Regions from separate parts of the Homo sapiens genome. Here region 1 is linked to region 2. The links come from fine-mapping of genetic effects on gene expression. Tissue or cell type: whole blood. Region 2 holds a variant in brackets; the other region holds the start of a gene. All regions are shown on one strand. Distances are between the middles of the regions.

The links. PIP is the estimated chance that this variant, and not a neighbour inherited with it, causes the effect.
Region 1: it holds the start of NCOA3, and the variant in region 2 is fine-mapped to the expression of NCOA3 in whole blood (TOPMed, PIP above 0.99).

What each region holds. Positions count from the first base shown.
Region 1 is chr20:47,498,457-47,506,559 of GRCh38, reverse strand. NCOA3 (nuclear receptor coactivator 3) reads right to left here and starts at 4,673. Exons shown (of 23, transcript NM_181659.3): 1 at 4,541-4,673. RefSeq lists a silencer at 4,314-4,433 and a cis regulatory region at 5,685-5,757.
Region 2 is chr20:47,438,624-47,446,726 of GRCh38, reverse strand. No RefSeq gene overlaps it. Among named protein-coding and RNA genes, the nearest start is that of LINC01754, 31 kb to the right of the region's middle. The variant G/A (reference allele first, on the strand shown) is at 3,238.

The DNA of each region.
Region 1 (8,103 bases), 60 kb before region 2:
GTACCTACCAAACTGAGTTAATGCTAACAAAGTTTGGTACTGGCAGTATGCAGCCTAAGAAGATTATCCAGTTTGTGGATAAATCGGCCTTCTACACACTGCAGGTCTCCCATCCTACTCCTGCTGTGTATTTTCTGGCCATTTTCCTGTTCATTTAAAAACTCTCCACCAGAAGGTAGGAAAGGGAAAGGCAATTAAATTCAATTCCATAATTTGTTAGGGGGCTGAAAATAAAGTTAGGCTCTGGATAAATTGCATCTTTAACCTAAAATAATCTTCTCCCAGAAACCCTCTCAGAAAAATGATAGACAAAATGAATTTACCTAGTAAAAACATGACCAAACTCATGGAATATGCCTCATTACCACAAAGCCCCTCCTCCACCTTAATTCTGAAGTGTTTATTTTGTAACCCCTCCCCAACCCCAAGAAGCACTCATAAAATGGGAGAAAATGGGCCGGGAGCGGTGGCTCACGCCTGTAACCCCAGCACTTTGGAAGGCCAAAGCAGGAGGATCACTTGAGGTCAGGAGTTCGAGACCAGCCTGGCCAACACGATGAAACCCCATCTCTACTAAAAATACAAAAATTAGCCGGGCATGGTGGCGAGCGCCGGTAGTCCCAGCTACTCGGGCAGGGGCTGAAGCACGAGAATCGCTTGAACCTGGGAGGCAGAGGTTGCAGTGAGCCGAGATCATGCCACTGCACTCCAGCCTGAGCAACAGAGTGAGACTCTGTCTCAAAAAAAAAAAAAAAAAAAGGAGAAAATGCCTACATTTTACTGCAGCACTCAATCTCAAAGCTATTCCTGAGAATCCAAACCAATATAGTCCCCTTGTTTTTCAATTTTTTGAAGTATGAGAAAAAAATAAGAAAAAGTTAACATACATTTCCAATACTAATTTTCTGCTCTCAGAGCTTTAACCGCTCAGTAATGCAAAAAACAAATATTTATACCAAGGATATGAACCAAACTGCTACAGGTAATCTCTTCAATCATGATCAACAAGTCTTGTTTTTTTTCTAATCCTAGATAGCTTTACAGGGTAACAACTGTATTAAATTGTGACAAATTTGCTGTTGTAGACCAAAAGTCACTGGCGGCTAATATGCATTCTAAACTTGCAACAAATTAAAAGTTTTCAAAAGTACTCTACCTCCTCTGGCCAAAGTGTGAAATTATATAGTTTTTAAAAAATGCAGGCTGGCGTGATGGCTCACACCTGTAATCCCAGCACTTTGGGAGGCCAAGGCAGGTGGATTACCTGAGGTTGGGAGTTCGAGACCAGCCTGGCCAACATGGTAAACTTTGTCTCTACTAAAAATACAAAAATAGCCGGGCGTGGTGGTGCGCACCTGTAATCCCAGCTACTTGGGAGGCTGACACAGGAGAATTGCTTGAACCCAGGAGGCAGAGGTTGCAGTGAGCCAAGATCGCGCCGCTGCACTCCAGCCTGGGCAACAGAGCAAATTTCCTTCTCAAAAAAAAAAAAAAAGAAAGAAAAGAAAAAAAAAAAACGCCCCTGCCCGCAAAAAAAAAAAAAAAAAAAAAAAAAACCAAAAACCCAAAGCCATTTATTTTAACCATCAATTTGGGATAGGACAATAGCAGAGTTTTTAAATCTTACCCTATTGTCCAAACTAAAATTTATTTTTTAATTTTCTTTTAAAGACTTTTCAATTACAGTACTCCAAGTTAAAATGAATTATTCCAGAATCATACTGCTAATGCACAAGACAGAATTTTTTTTTTTTTTGAAACAGAGTCTCATTCTGTTGCCCAGGCTGGAGTGCAGTGGTGCAATCTCGGCTCACTGCAACCTCCGCCTCCCGGGTTCAAGCCATTCTTCTGCCTCAACCTCCTGAGTAGCTGGAACTACAGGTGCTCGCCACCACGCCCGGCTAATTTTTTGTATTTTTAGTAGTGAAGGGGTTTCACCATCTTTGCCAGGCTGTTCTCAAACTCCTGACCTCGTGATCCACCAGCCTTGGCTTCCCAAAGTGCTGGGATTACAGGCCTGAGCCACTGCAGCCCGGCAGAAAGAACTGAATTCGTTAAAAAAAAAAAAAAAAAAAAAAAAAGACACACTTAGCTTTTATCTTTAATGTAATGTCCCTGCAAGAAAGCTTATTTCAAAAGACCAGTCAAGAAGACATTAGTAAGCAACCATTTTTAAACTACTTTTTATTTGCATATCGCCTAGAAAAAGGGTCTCACGTACAACAGTACTTCACTCCTTACTGAATTCTATTTTATTTGCTCGGGAGGTGCGTGGCACTTTTTAGAAATAATTTTTATACAGAGAAGGAAATGCACAGCATAATCATTTTCAAAATACAGTTAAATTATTTAATATAATCTTTAATAACCTAGCTCTAATATCACTGAATTTCCTTAGCAAATTGTTAGTGTTGGCAAGCTGTTAAAACAACCATTCTAAAATATAAAAATATAAATCTCGCTATTGATGCTTAAGTTGTACATTTTCAAAGCCTTTGTAATTAAATATCTTATGGCAGAAATATTTCCTATAACTGCTCTAGAAATATTACAGCCTCCCGCTTAGTCCACAATCCCCATCTTCTATATGCCAAAAGCTGGTATATGCCTCTTATTTCAAATGCTGATTGGACAATTAAGTCATTTCCATCTATACATAAAATGCCCCTATAATTTAGGATCACAGGCAATTTAGATTTCTGCTCATTGAAATGCAGAACCTGAAGCAACCTCTAGTGACAGGAGCTATAGTGTTCAATATCATTTTACATGTTACAAGCAGAGGATTCATTGTACATACAAACAATGAACCCTGGCAGAGTTCTTTATCCTAAAGCCCCACAGATTGTTATTTAACGGTATTAATAGATAAGGTGACATAAGCAGTAAGTTCTGAAGAGCTTTTTCCAATAGCTATCAACATTTTTTTTAAGAGAGCAAAAACAGTATTCCCACATTTTCTGTTTCTTCTGTTCATTTTATTTCCCTGCTTTTGGTATCCAACAGAAGTGGTTTCAAATGAAAATCTTAAAATAATTATTCCAAAGACCAAGGATATTCTAAAAACCAGTAACAGTCTTTGCCTCTGAGAAGGGGAAACTGTAGGGTTTGGCGTGAAAGAGAGATTCACTTTTCAATGTGTTTGTACCTTTCCAATTGGATATCATTCGGTAGAACCATATTCTAAATGAGCATACATTTAAAATATTTTCAAGAACAAACAATTCACAAACTTACAGGTTTCCATTAACATTTTCGTTTGTGCAGCATTCGCTGAAGACCTAAGATTTTTATTCCTCCAATCACCTTCTCAACAACCTGCTGCAACAAATACTGAAGCTTTTTTGCAGCCAGGGATCAGTTAGGTGGATCCGAGGCCAGGCATTTAAATCAAAGAGATGCAGCAATCTTACTCAATACTACTACCACTCTCACGCATCTCATTCAACTCCATTTAAAACCACTGCAGCAAGACAGCTGGTACTCTCCTTCCTGTTTCTTTACCGTACAGGCTTAATAACAAAAACAGGTTGGTTTTGAAGCCCTGCTCAAATATTGCAAAAAGGAAGTCTTCGCATTCGGGAGGGGGAAAAAAGTTTCGACTTCGAGAGAATCTCATAGCTTCCGTGTCATTCCATTTGGGAATCCCAGATCCTGCCAGTGAGGTAGATGCTCGCTCTCTCGGTTAACTTTTCCACCCTAGATGCCCTCAAACTGCCTAGGAAGCAACTAAGTCTCCCAACGACCCATGGCTAGTTTTGTTAAGGCAGGTACAAGACAAGCAGTTTATTTAAACCATGACGAACTGGGTCGATGTTCATAAAATGAGAGATGGGGAGAGCAAAAAAAAAAAAAAAGTAGTAATAAAGACAGCCAAACTCCTAATTTTATCAACCAACTTCCCACTTGCCATTTCCCAGCCTTCACACCAGAGGTAGTAAAACGCCTTTTTACCGAGAAAACTAAGAAGCTACCCGAGCCCAACATGAAAATTCCGCGGACAATTCGTGTTAAAATATTTTTTAAATGCCCAAGTGAGGAGGAAACACAGCAACCAAATCTCACCCGGCTGGGAGGCTGGGGTGGGGGGGGTCCCCGCGGCTTTTCCCTCCCGTGCGTCCCAGAAGCTGCTAAGGAGCCGGGGCAGCAGGAGGACGACGCGGGGAGCTTTCAAAAGGGCTGGGGGAGGCAAGAGGAAGAAAAAACTTTAGGGACAGAAGGGGAAAGTGGGCCCCTGCAGTCCCCCCGCAAACTCCTCGGGTGACCCCTCCGCGCGGGGACCCCCTCGGATCCCCAAGCGGACTGCCACCCAGCTTCGTCTCAGCTCCTACCGCCGCGGGCCGCCCCCCGGGCTGAGGGGAAGCGGCGCGGCCCCGACACCCCGAAACTACCTCAGCGCGTCCCCCGGCCGGCGCGCCCCTCAGTGCCTTGGCAGATCTGAAGCCGCTGGCTCTCGCAGCCTGGGGAACTCGCCCCTCTTCCCTCCGCCTCGCACTCCACCCCCTCGCCCGCCACCGCCTCCTCCTTTATCTCCACTCACCTCCCGCCGCCATTTTCCTCGCAGCTCAGCTTTAAATCGGAAACTCGCCGCTCAGCCCGCAGCCGCCGCCGGCCGCCACCGACTAAGCCGCAGCCGCTGCCGTCGCTGTGGAGCGGCTGAGACAGCAGCAGCTAAAGTCGCCGCACGGGGGCCACTGGGATATGTAGTCCCGAGGCCACGCCCAGCACTACCGGTCCCAGGGGGCCTTGCGCGGCCGGCCTAGGGTTCCAGCGACCCCCACCCTGGCTTCCGCGGCGGAGGGCGTGGCGACGTGGGCTCGTGCGGCCGCTTTCGCCCAGCATCGACTGGGAGCTCCCTCGGGATCCGGAGAACCGGAATGCAGTCCTAGCCCTGCCCTTAATTTTTTTCATATTTGCCTTCGTCCAGTAATACCTAACATTTGTGGAGCGTTTCTGGTATGCCAAGCACGGATCCTCAAAACAAGCATCCGGTAGGGACCATGATCATCCTCATTTTTCAGATGAGCGAACTGAGGCACAAGGTCGGAAGCCACGAGGCTGTTCCTTAGCTGCTAAAGTCACTGGGTGAAATGTTGTTGGGCAGCAGTATATTCAGGGTATATTTAGTCCCGAAGTATCATCCCACAGCGTATTTATGACTTACAATAAAGAACAGCTTGCTTTACAATGGAAAGATCTGGCAGGCACCCCCTTACCAAGTGATCGAACTTAGCACCACCAATAATGGGTCAGGACTGTTGTTATGTGTCTCCTAATATGATGCAGTGGGGAAAGCATATTGCTACCTCTGTCGTATTCTTGCCACATACACACAAAAAGCTTACTTGAAAAAATAAACGAATTCAGAATGTGGGACATTCTACACAACATCTAGCCTGGAGTCTTTTAAAATATGACAGCATGAAAGAGGTGAAAACCAAAAGCAATAGGTGAGACTTGATTGGATTCAGGATGATTTTTTTATGTAAAAAGAATTTGGGGGGCAATTTCAATGTGGACTGTATGTTAGATAATATTGAGTCAGTATTAGATGTGTTGAGTGTAAATAAAATAGAATAATCTGACCACTTACCACCTCCACGGTCAGCACCATCATTTCCCACCTGGACCACTGCAACAGCCTCCTCAGTGTTCTGCCTGCTTCCACTCTTTCCTCTTAGAGTCTATACTCAACACAGCAGCCAGAGGAATCCTGGTAAGAACCAAGTCAGTCTCTGTCCCTCCTGCAAAATTCTTGCAGTAACCTGCAAAGCCCCATACAGCCCGTCTCTTGCCCTGCCCTTCCCTCTCTAAACTCATCACCTTCTTCTCTTCCACTCACTTCTGTAACTCAGCTACAATGGACTCGGCCTCTCCAACGTGCTTAGCACACTCTGGCCTTAAAGATCGTGCACTTGCTATTTCCTCTGCCTAGAACAGTATTTTCCCAGAAAATTCAAATAACCCATTCCCTAATCTCCCCATGGTCATTGTCCAAATGTCACTTATTCAGTGAGGCTTTCCCTAACTGCTCTATTTTAACTTCCTGCCCACTCTGATCCCAGCTTTCCCTACTCCTATTCCTTTCTTCATTTATTTTCAGAGCATGAATTATCATTAAAATCATGATATATTTCTGTTTACTTATGTTATTTAAAATATCTCATTTTGGCTGGGCGCGGTGACTCACGAATGTAATCCCAGCACTTTGGGAGGCCAAGGCAGGCAGATCACCTGAGGTCGGGAGTTCAAGACCAGCCTGACCAATATGGAGAAACCCCGTCACTACTAAAAATACATAATTAGCTGGGCATGGTAGCACATGCCTGTAATCCGAGCTACTCAGGAGGCTGAGGCAGGAGAATCACTTGAACCTGGGGGCAGAGGTTGCGGTGAGCCGAGATGGCACCATTGCACTCCAACCTGGGCAACAAGAGTGAAACTCCGTCTCAAAAAAAAAAAAAGTAAAAATTAAAAAATTAAATATCTCATTTCTGGGCCGGGCACGGTGGCTCACACCTGTAATCCCAACACTTTGGGAGGCCAAGGTGGGCAGATCACCTGAGGTCAGAAGTTCCAGACCAGCCTGCCCAACATGGCGAAACCCCGTCTCTACTAAAAATACAAAAGATTAGCTGGGCATGGTGGCAGGCGCCTATAATCCTGGCTACTCGGGAGGCTGAGGCAGGAGAATCACTTGAACCCGGGAGGCAGAGGTTGCAGTGAGCCGAGATCGCGCCACTGCACTCCAGCCTGGGCCACAAGAGCGAAACTCTGTCTCAAAAAAATATATATATATATATTTCCACCAGGGCACAGTGGCTCAGGCCTGTAATCCCAACACTTTGGAAGGCCGAGAGATTGCTTGAGCCCAGGAGTTCAAGACCAGCCTTGGCAACAAAGCAGATACCCAGTCTCTACAAAAAATTTTAAAATTAGCTTGGTGTGGTGGCGCCTGCTTGTATTCCCAAGTACTCAGGAGGCTGAGGTGGGAGGATTGCCTGAGTAGGGGAGGTCAAGGCTGCAGTGAGCCATGCTTGCACCACTGCACTCCAGCCTGGGCGACAGAGTGAGACTCCATTTCAAATATATATATATATAAAATAAAAATAATAAAATAAAATACTGCGTTAGATGCTGAGAACCCAGAGATGAAATGCTCACACGTGTATGGCCTTTCACCTCAGCAACTGCACCTGTCTCCTAGCTACTCTCCTTGCTTCTCTCCCTTTCATCCTCTACAGGGCACTCCCAATACAGTAGCCAGAGGGATCCTTGAAAAATCATGTATTAAATCATGTTACTTCCAACCTAGGCCGGGTACGGTGGCTCACGCCTGTAATTCCAGCACTTTGGGAGGGCAAAGCAGGCAGATCACTTGAGGTCAGGGTTTTGAGGCCAGCCTGACCAATATAGTGAAACCCTGTCTCTACTAAAAATACAAAATTAGCTGGGCATGGTGGCACACACCTGTAGTCCTAGCAACTTGGGAGGCTGAAGCAGGAGAATCTCTTGAACCCAGGAGGCAGAGGTTGCAGTAAGCCAAGATCATGCCACTGCACTCCAGCCAGGGCAACAAGAGCGTAACTCCATCTCAAAAACAAAACAAAACAAAACAAAACAAAAAACTTCCAACCTAAACAGCTTCGAATGGCATCCCATTGCATTTGGGATAAAACTCAGACCCTAGTTGGGTGTGGTGGCCCACGCTTCTAGTCCTAGCTACTCAGAAAGCTGAGGTGAGAGGATTGCTTGAGCCCGGAAGTTCGAGGCTGCAGTGAGCCGTAATTGTGCCAGTGCACTCCAACCTGGGTGACAGAGGGAGACCCTGACTCCATTTAAGAAAACAAACTACTCTGACCCTAATTGATTTGGTCTCTGCTCCCCTCCCTGATCTCAGGTGATATATCTCTCCCTATATCTCACCCCATGTCACACTAACATTCCTGAACACACCAAGCATATTCCTGCCTCAGGACCTGTGCACCTGTTGTTCCTTTTGCCTAGAATTTTCTTTCCTCCTGGCTTGCTCTCTATTGCCATTCAAGTCTCTGCTGCAATGTCTCCTTCTCGGATAGAACTTCTAAAGCACTAAACACACAC
Region 2 (8,103 bases):
CAGTTTCACTCTGTTGCCCAGGCTGGATGGAGTGCAATGGCATGATTGGAGCTCACTGCAACCTCCGCCTCCCGGGTTCAAGCGATTCTCCTGCTTCAGCCTCCCTAGTAGCTGGGATTACAGGTGCGTGCCACCACATCCAGCTAATTTTTGTATTTTTAGTAGAGACAGGGTTTTACCGTGTTGGTCTTGAACTCCTGATCTCAGGCGTTCAAGTGCTCGAATTGAACGAGCCTCCCAAAGTGCTCCCAAAGTGCTGGAATTATAGGCATGAGCCACCATGCCCGGCCTAATTTTTGTATTTTTAGTGGAGACGGGGTTTCACCATATTGGCCAAGATGTTCTCCATCTCCTGACCTTGTGATCCGCTCACCTCAGCCTCCCAAAGTGCTGGGATTACAGGTGTGAGCCACTGCACCTGGCCCATTTTATTTTTATTTTTGTAGAGAAGAGGTCTCCCTATCTTGTCCAGGCTGGTCTCAAATTCCTGGCCTTCAGTGATCCTCCTGTCTCAGCCTCCTGAAGTAGTGGGATTATAGGTGTAAGCTACAAGCCCGACCAGAAGCTCAGTTTTTAAAAGCTGAATCCCATATCCTGCAGATCTTAGACAACCCCACCTCCAGAATCTTGAGCTAAATAAACCTCTCTCCTTTATAAATTACCTAGTCTCTAGTATTCTGTTATAGTAACAGAAAACAGACTAAGGCAAGGTTTCTCCACACCTCTTTATGTTTTGGCGACTTATTTCATTTTAGCACTAAATAATATTCTTTTTTTTTTTTTTGAGACAGAGTCTTGCTCTGTCATCCAGGCTGGAGTTTAGTGGTGCAATCTTGGTTCACGGCAACCTCTGCCTCCTGGGTTCAAGCAATTCTCCCACCTCAGCCTCCTGAGTAGCTGGGATTACGGGTGTGTGCTACCATGCCCGGCTATTTTTTTTTTTTTTTTTTTCTAATAGAGATGGGTTTTCGCCATGTTGGCCAGGCTGGTCATGAACTACTGGCTTCAAGTGATCCGCCAGCCTCGGCCTCCCAAAGTGCTGGGATTATAGGCATGAGCCACTGCGCCCGGCCAGCACTGAATAATATTCTACTGTCTGGACGTACCACAGTTTATCCATTCACTTACTGAAGGACAGCTTGGTTGCTTCCAAGTTTGGCAATTACGAATACATCTGTTATAAACATTTGTGTGCGAGTGTTTGTGTGGATGTAAGTTTCCGATTCACTTGGGTTAAATGCCAAGGAGTGCAATTGCTGGATCATGTAGGAAGAGCATTTCAGTTTTAGAAGAAACTATCAGACTGTCTTCCGAGGTAGCTGTGCCATTTTGCATTTCCACAGCAATGAATGAGAGCTCCTGTTGCTCAACATCTTGACCAGCATTTGGTGTTGTCATTTTTAAAAATTTTAGTCATTAGCCATTCGGCCAGGCATGGTGGCTCACACCTGTAACCTCAGCACTTTGGGAGGCTGAGGTGGGAGGATCATGAGTTCAGGAGATCGAGACTATCCTGGCCAACATGGTGAAAACCCGTTTCTACTAAAAATACAAAAATTAGCCAGGCATGGTGGCACTTGCCTGTAATCCCAGCTACTTGGGAGGCTGAGGCAGGAGAATCGTTTGAACCCGCGAGACAGAGGTGGCAGTGAGCCGAGATATCACCATTGCACTCCAGCCTGGGCGACAGAGCGACAGAGCGAGACTCCGCCTCAAAAAAAAAAAAAAAAGAAAGAAAAGAAAAGAAAAGAAAAAATTTTAGCCATCCTAGGCCAGGCACAGTGGCTCATGCCTGTAATCTCAGCACTTTGGGAGGCTGAGGCCAGCGGATTACTTGAGCCCAGGAGTTTGAGACCAGCCTGGGCAACATAGGGAGACTCCCATCTCTACAAAAAATTTAAAAATTAGCCAGGCAGGGTGGCGTGCACCTGTAGTCCCAGCTATTCAGAAGGCTGAGGTGGGAAGATCCCTTGAACCCAGCAAGTCAAGGCTGCAGTGATCAGTGATCACGTCACTGTCCTCCAGCCCGGGTGGCAGAATGAGACCTTGTCTCAAAACAAAGAAAAAAAAATTTAGCTGTTATCTAATAGGTGAGTAGTGGTACCTCATTTTTTTAATTTGCAATTCCCTAATGACATATGACATTAAGCACTTTTTTATGTGCTTATTTGCCATCTGTATATACATATATTTTTTGAGAGAGTCTTGCTATGTGTGTGTATATATATATATATATATATATTTTTTTTTTTTTTTTTGAGACAGAGTCTTGCTCTGTCGTCCAGGCTGGAGTACAGTGGCACAATCTTGGCTCACTGCAACCTCTGCCTCCCGGGTTCAAGTGATTCTCCTCCCTCAGCCTCCCGAGTAGCTGGGATTACAGGCACCTGCCACCGCACCCAGCTAATTTTTGTAGTTTTAGTAGAGACGGGGTTTCACCATCTTGGCCAGGCTGGTCTTGAACTCCTGACCTCATGATCCACCCACCTCGGCCTCCCAAAGTGCTAGGATTACAGGCATGAGCCACCATGCCCGGCCGTGTATATCTTCTTTGGTAAGGTATCTGTTCAGAGTTTTTTGCCCATTTATTTTTTAATTTTAATTTTCTTTTTCTTTTTTTTTTTTTTTTTATTTGAGACGTAGTTTCACTCTTGTTGCCCAGGCTGGAGTACAATAGCAGGATCGCGGCTCACTGCAACCTCTGCCTCTCGGGTTCAAGCGGTTCTCCTGCCTCAGCCTCCCGAGTAGCCGGGATTACAAATGTGTGCCATCATGCCCAGCTAATTTTGTATTTTTAGTAGAGACAGCGTTTGTCCATGTTGGTCAGGCTGGTCTCGAACTCCCTACCTCAGGTGATCCACCTGCCTCGGCCTCCCAAAGTTCTGGGATTACAGGCGTGAGCCACTGTGCCAGGCCTTTAATTTTTTTTTAATTTATTTTTGAGACAGGGTCTCACTCTATCACCCAGGGTGGAGTGTAGTGTGATTTCGGTACACTACAACCTCTACCTTCCTGGCTCAAGCAATCCTCCTACCTTAGCCCCGCCAAGTAGCTGGGACTACAGGGCCGTGCCTTCACACTCAGCTAATTTTTTGTATTTTTTGTAGAAATAGGGTTTTGCCATGTTGCCTAGGCTGGTCTCGAACTCCTGGGCTCAAGCAATCCACCCATCTCAGCCTCCCAAAGTGCTGGATTTACAGGCATGAGTCACCACCTCTGGCTTTTTTTTTTTGAGGC[G/A]AGGTCTCACTCTGTTGCCCAGGCTGGAGTGCAGTGGTGTGTTCTTGGCTCACTGCAACCTCTGCTGCCCAGGTTCAAGCGATTCTCCGGCCTTAGCCTCCTGAGTAGCTGGGATTACAGGCACCTGCCACCATGCCCGCCTAATTATTGTAGTTTTAGTAGAGATGGGGCTTCACCATCTTGGCCAGGCTGGTCTTGAACTCCTGACCTCATGATCCACCTGCCTCAGCCTCCCAAAGTGCTGGGATTATAGGCATGAGCCACCACGCCTGGCCTTGCTCATTTTTTAATCAGGTCGTTCACGTTCGTGTTTTTTTAAACGAGTCAGCATCGTGCTATATTGCCCAAACTGGAGTGCAGTGGCTATTCACAGTCAGGATCATAGCACATTACAATCTTGAACTCCTGGGCTCAAGTGATTCTTTTAGCTTAGCCTCCTGAATAGACTACAGGCATATGCCACCATGCCCAGCTCTATTTTCAGATTGTTGAGTTACGTGTTTTTTTATTTTTATTTTTATTTAATTAATTAATTTTTTTTTTTTTTGAGACGGAGTCTCGCTCTGTTGCCCAGGTTGGAGTGCAATGGCGCCATCTCGGCTCACTGCAACCTCTGCCTCCTGGGTTCAAACCGTTCTCCTACCTCAGCCTCCTGAGTAGCTGGAATTATGGCATGCACCACCACGCCTGGCTAATTTTTATATTGTTGGTAGAGACTGGGTTTCGCCGTATTGGCCAGGCTGGTCTCGAACTCCTGACCTCAGGCGATCCACCTGCCTCAGCCTCCAAAGTGCTGGAATTACAGGCAAGAGCCACTGTGCCCAGCCGGATTGTTGTGTTATTTGGATAAAAGACCTTTATCAAGATATGTTTTTGCAGATGTTTCTCTCAGTCTGTGGCTTGTCCTCTCTTTCTCGTGACAATCCCTAAACTTTTGTTGCACCATCCAGGAAAGCGGCATTCTCCCTGCTGAGGGTGCTGAGAGGTGGGATGAAAGTCCAGAGCTGCTGGCAGCCATCTTGGAATCACAGGAATGGGGCTGACTGAGAATGGAGTCAAGAAAGAAATGGGGCCTGTAATCCCAGCACTTTGGGAGGCCGAGGCAGGTGGATCACAACGTCAGGAGACCAACCTGGCTAACACGGTGAAACCCCGTCTCTACTAAAAATACAAAAAATTAGCCGGGCGAGGTGGTGGGCGCCTGTAGTCCCAGCTACTTGGAAGGCTGAGGCAGGAGAATGGCGTGAACCCCAGAGGCGGAGCTTGCAGTGAGCCGAGATCGCACCACTGCACTCCAGCCTGGGCGACAGAGCAAGACTCCATCTCAAAAAAAAAAAAAAAAAAAAAAAAGAGAGAAAGAAAGAAATGGGGCCTGTAATCCCAGCACTTGGGGAGGCCATGGCTGGAGGCTTGCTTAAGCCCAGCCGTTTGAGACCAGCCTGGGCAACACGGCAAGACACCATCCCTAAAAAAGTTAGCTGGGCATGGTGGCGCACACCTATAGTCTCAGCTACTTGGGAGGCTGAAATGGGAGGATTGCTTAAGCCTAGAGAGGTGGAGGCTGCAGTGATTCATAATTGCAGCACTGCACTGCAGCCTGGGTGAAAGAGCCAGACCCTGTCTGGAAAAAAAAAAAAAAAAGGAAGAAAGAAAGGGAGAGAGAGAGACAGGGAGAGAAAAGAAAGACGAGAGGAGAGGGGAGGGGAGAGAAGAGGAGGGGAAGGGAGGGAAGATGGTTCACAGACCCAAAATCCCACAAATGGCTCAAAATCTACAAAAATAAGATCAGCTCTTATCAGAAATGAATTTACAACTATGAAGTGACACTACTTTTTCACCTGTCAGATAGGCTAAATGAAAAAATAACTGATAATACAACATGTGGCCAGGGTGTGAGGAACATGGCACTGTCAATCAGACTCAACTTTGGATATAGTAACAGAGACAGGACAGATTGGTGGCTTCAATGAGATAAAAGTTTATTTCTCTTCTCATGTAAAAGAAGTCTATAGATTAGTTCTCCAAGGCTGGCATGGTGGGTCCTCTTTCCCCAGAAACCTTGTTTCTGTCTGTCTGCTTCCATTCTTAAATCCACATGACTCAAGATAGTGGCTGGAATGCCATCCATCAAATCTGCATTCCTGGCAGCAGGAAGCGGGAAGGGAGAAAAGGGTGCACCCTTTCCTTTCTGGGAGCCTCCACTCATGTCAACTTACATCTCATTGGCCAGAACTTAGACATATGACTAAGCTATAAAGTGACACTACTTTTTCATCTATACCTAACTGCAAAGGAAACCGGGAAATTTAACCTTTATTCTAAGTTCTAGGTGGCAACGTGCTAGAATAAAAATTGGAATCTGGCCAAGCACAGTGGCTCATGCCTATCATTCCAGCCCTTTGGGAGGCTGAGACAAGAGGACCACTTGAGTCCAGGAGTTCAAGAACAGCCTGGGCAGCATAGTGAGACCGTTTCTACAAAAAAAAAAAAGAAAAGAAAAAAAATTTAGCCAGGTGTGGTGGCACGTGTCTCTGGTCCCAGCTACTTGAGAGGCTGAGGTGGGAGGATGGCTTGAGTCCAGGAGGTCGAGACTGCAGTGAACTGTGATTGTTCCACTGCACTCCAGCCTCGGTAACACACTGAGACCCTGTCCCCTCACAAAAAAAAAGAGAAAAAATTGGACTCTCTTAATGTGAAGAAGGGCAAAAAATGGATGTTGGGAAATAACTGGCCATTCCTGGATGGGTTTTTTTACATTTTTAAAAATTTTATTCATTATTTTATTTTTATTTTATTTTATTTATGTATTTATTTATTTATTTTTGAGACAGAGTCTCACTCTGTCATCCAGGCTAGAGCACAGTGGCATGATCTCGGCTCACTGCAACCTCCACTTCCCGGGTTCAAGCGATTCTCCTGCCTCAGCCTCCCGAGTAGCTGGAACTACAGGTGCCTGCCACCACACCCAGCTAATTTTGGTATTTTTGTAGCAATGGGGTTTCACCATGTTGGCCAGGCTGGTCTCAAACTCCTGACCTCCAGTGATCCCTCGCCCTTGGCCTCCCAAAGTGCTAGAATTACAGATGTGAGCCATCGCACCTGGCCAGACACTGTGTTATTCTTGCCAACAAGTGACAAAAATCACGATCAAATTGGTTATGAAAAGAGAATTCACAGGCTCACCTGATAGCAAGGGTACAGCTTGTACCAGCTTTAGGTATGGATGGACCCAGAGGCTCACACAGTGAGATCAGTACTGTTTCCCTATTTCTTGATTCATTTCCTTTGTGTTAGCTTCTTTTTTTTTTTTTTTTTTTTTGAGACAGAGTCTCGCTCTGTAGCCCAGGCTGGAGTGCAGTGATGCGATCTCAGCTCACTGCAACCTCCATCTCTCGGGTTCAAGCAATTCTTCTGCTTCAGCCTCTTTAGTAGCTGGGATTAAAGGCATGCACCACCACGCCCAGTTAATTTTGTATGGTTTCACCATGTTGGCCAGGCTGGTCTCAAACTCCTGGTCTCAATCAATCCACCCGCCTCGGCCTCCCAAAGTGCTGAGATTACAGGCGTGAGCCACTGCGTCTGGCTGTCTCTATTTCCTGATCCATTTCCTTTATTTAACTTTTTTTTTTTTTTTTTTGAGACGGATCTCACTCTGTCGCCCAGGCTGGAGGGCAGTGGCACCATCTCAGCTCACTGCAACCTCCACCTCCAGGGTTCAAGCAATTCTCCTACCTCAGCTTCCTGAGTAGCTGGGATTACAGGCACATGCCAGCACGCCTGGCTAATTTTTGTAATTTTTTTAGTAGAGACGGGGTTTCACCATGTTGGCCAGGCTGGTCTCGAACTCCTGACCTCGGGTGATGTGCCCACCTCGGCCTCCCAAAGTGCTGGGATTACAGGCATGAGCCACAGTGCCCGGCCTGTGTTAGCTTCATTTTTATTTTTATTTTCATTTTTATTTTTATTTTTTTTTTTCAGGGACTATAGGAAAGGTAAATGCTTCATTCTTGGTAATTTCCCATATGGTGGCCCAGCGAGGCTCACAGCAGTCAACCTTACATCCCACCACAAAGCAATCATGGTAGAAAAAGAACATCTCTTTTCCAGTATTTCTAGAAAACATCTCAGAACTGACTTTCACTGGACTCTCTTAGGTCACATGTCCATCTTTCAGCCAATCACCACAGCCAGAGCTGAGCTATGTTGGTGTCCGGATTGACCTGAGTCGCCTGCTTATTCCTGGAGCCCATGGGTGGCGGTCTGCCTCACCAGGACCACAGACACCAAGGGGGAGAAGGAAACCCCACCCAGGAAACCTAGAGCTGTTTCCAGAAGGAGGAGGGGTTGCTAGGTAGACTGAGCTACAAACATCTACAACAGTCACACAGGGAACTTAGGGGAAGGCCACCCCAGAAGCCCACAGTTTCCTAAGGTGCATCTCACTGTGCACGCAACTACCCCAGCTCTTTCTGTTGCCTAGGAGCTCACGTCTAAGAAATCACAAAATGTAAACACGGACTAAAGGAGAAGTCATCAGAGGAGAAGAGTATGCGAAGGGAAGAGGTTCAGAAGGGCGGGAAAACATCCAACTCTTGGACTTCGTTACCATATTCACCTTGTCGAAAAGTTTCTAAACCTGATGAATGACATTCCAGAGGACTGAAATAATTGGCACATGTGACCGAGGAAATGCAGGCAGTAATCTTCAAGAAATTGTGGAGAGTGGGAACAACTGGAAGATTGGAGTTGGGCAAATGTATGTAATTTTTAAAAGCTGAATCCCAAGCCCTGCAGACCGATTGGTTTGGGTGGTTATTCTTCCGCTTCCTCTTCCTCTTTTTTTTTTTTTTTTCTCTCTCTCTCTTT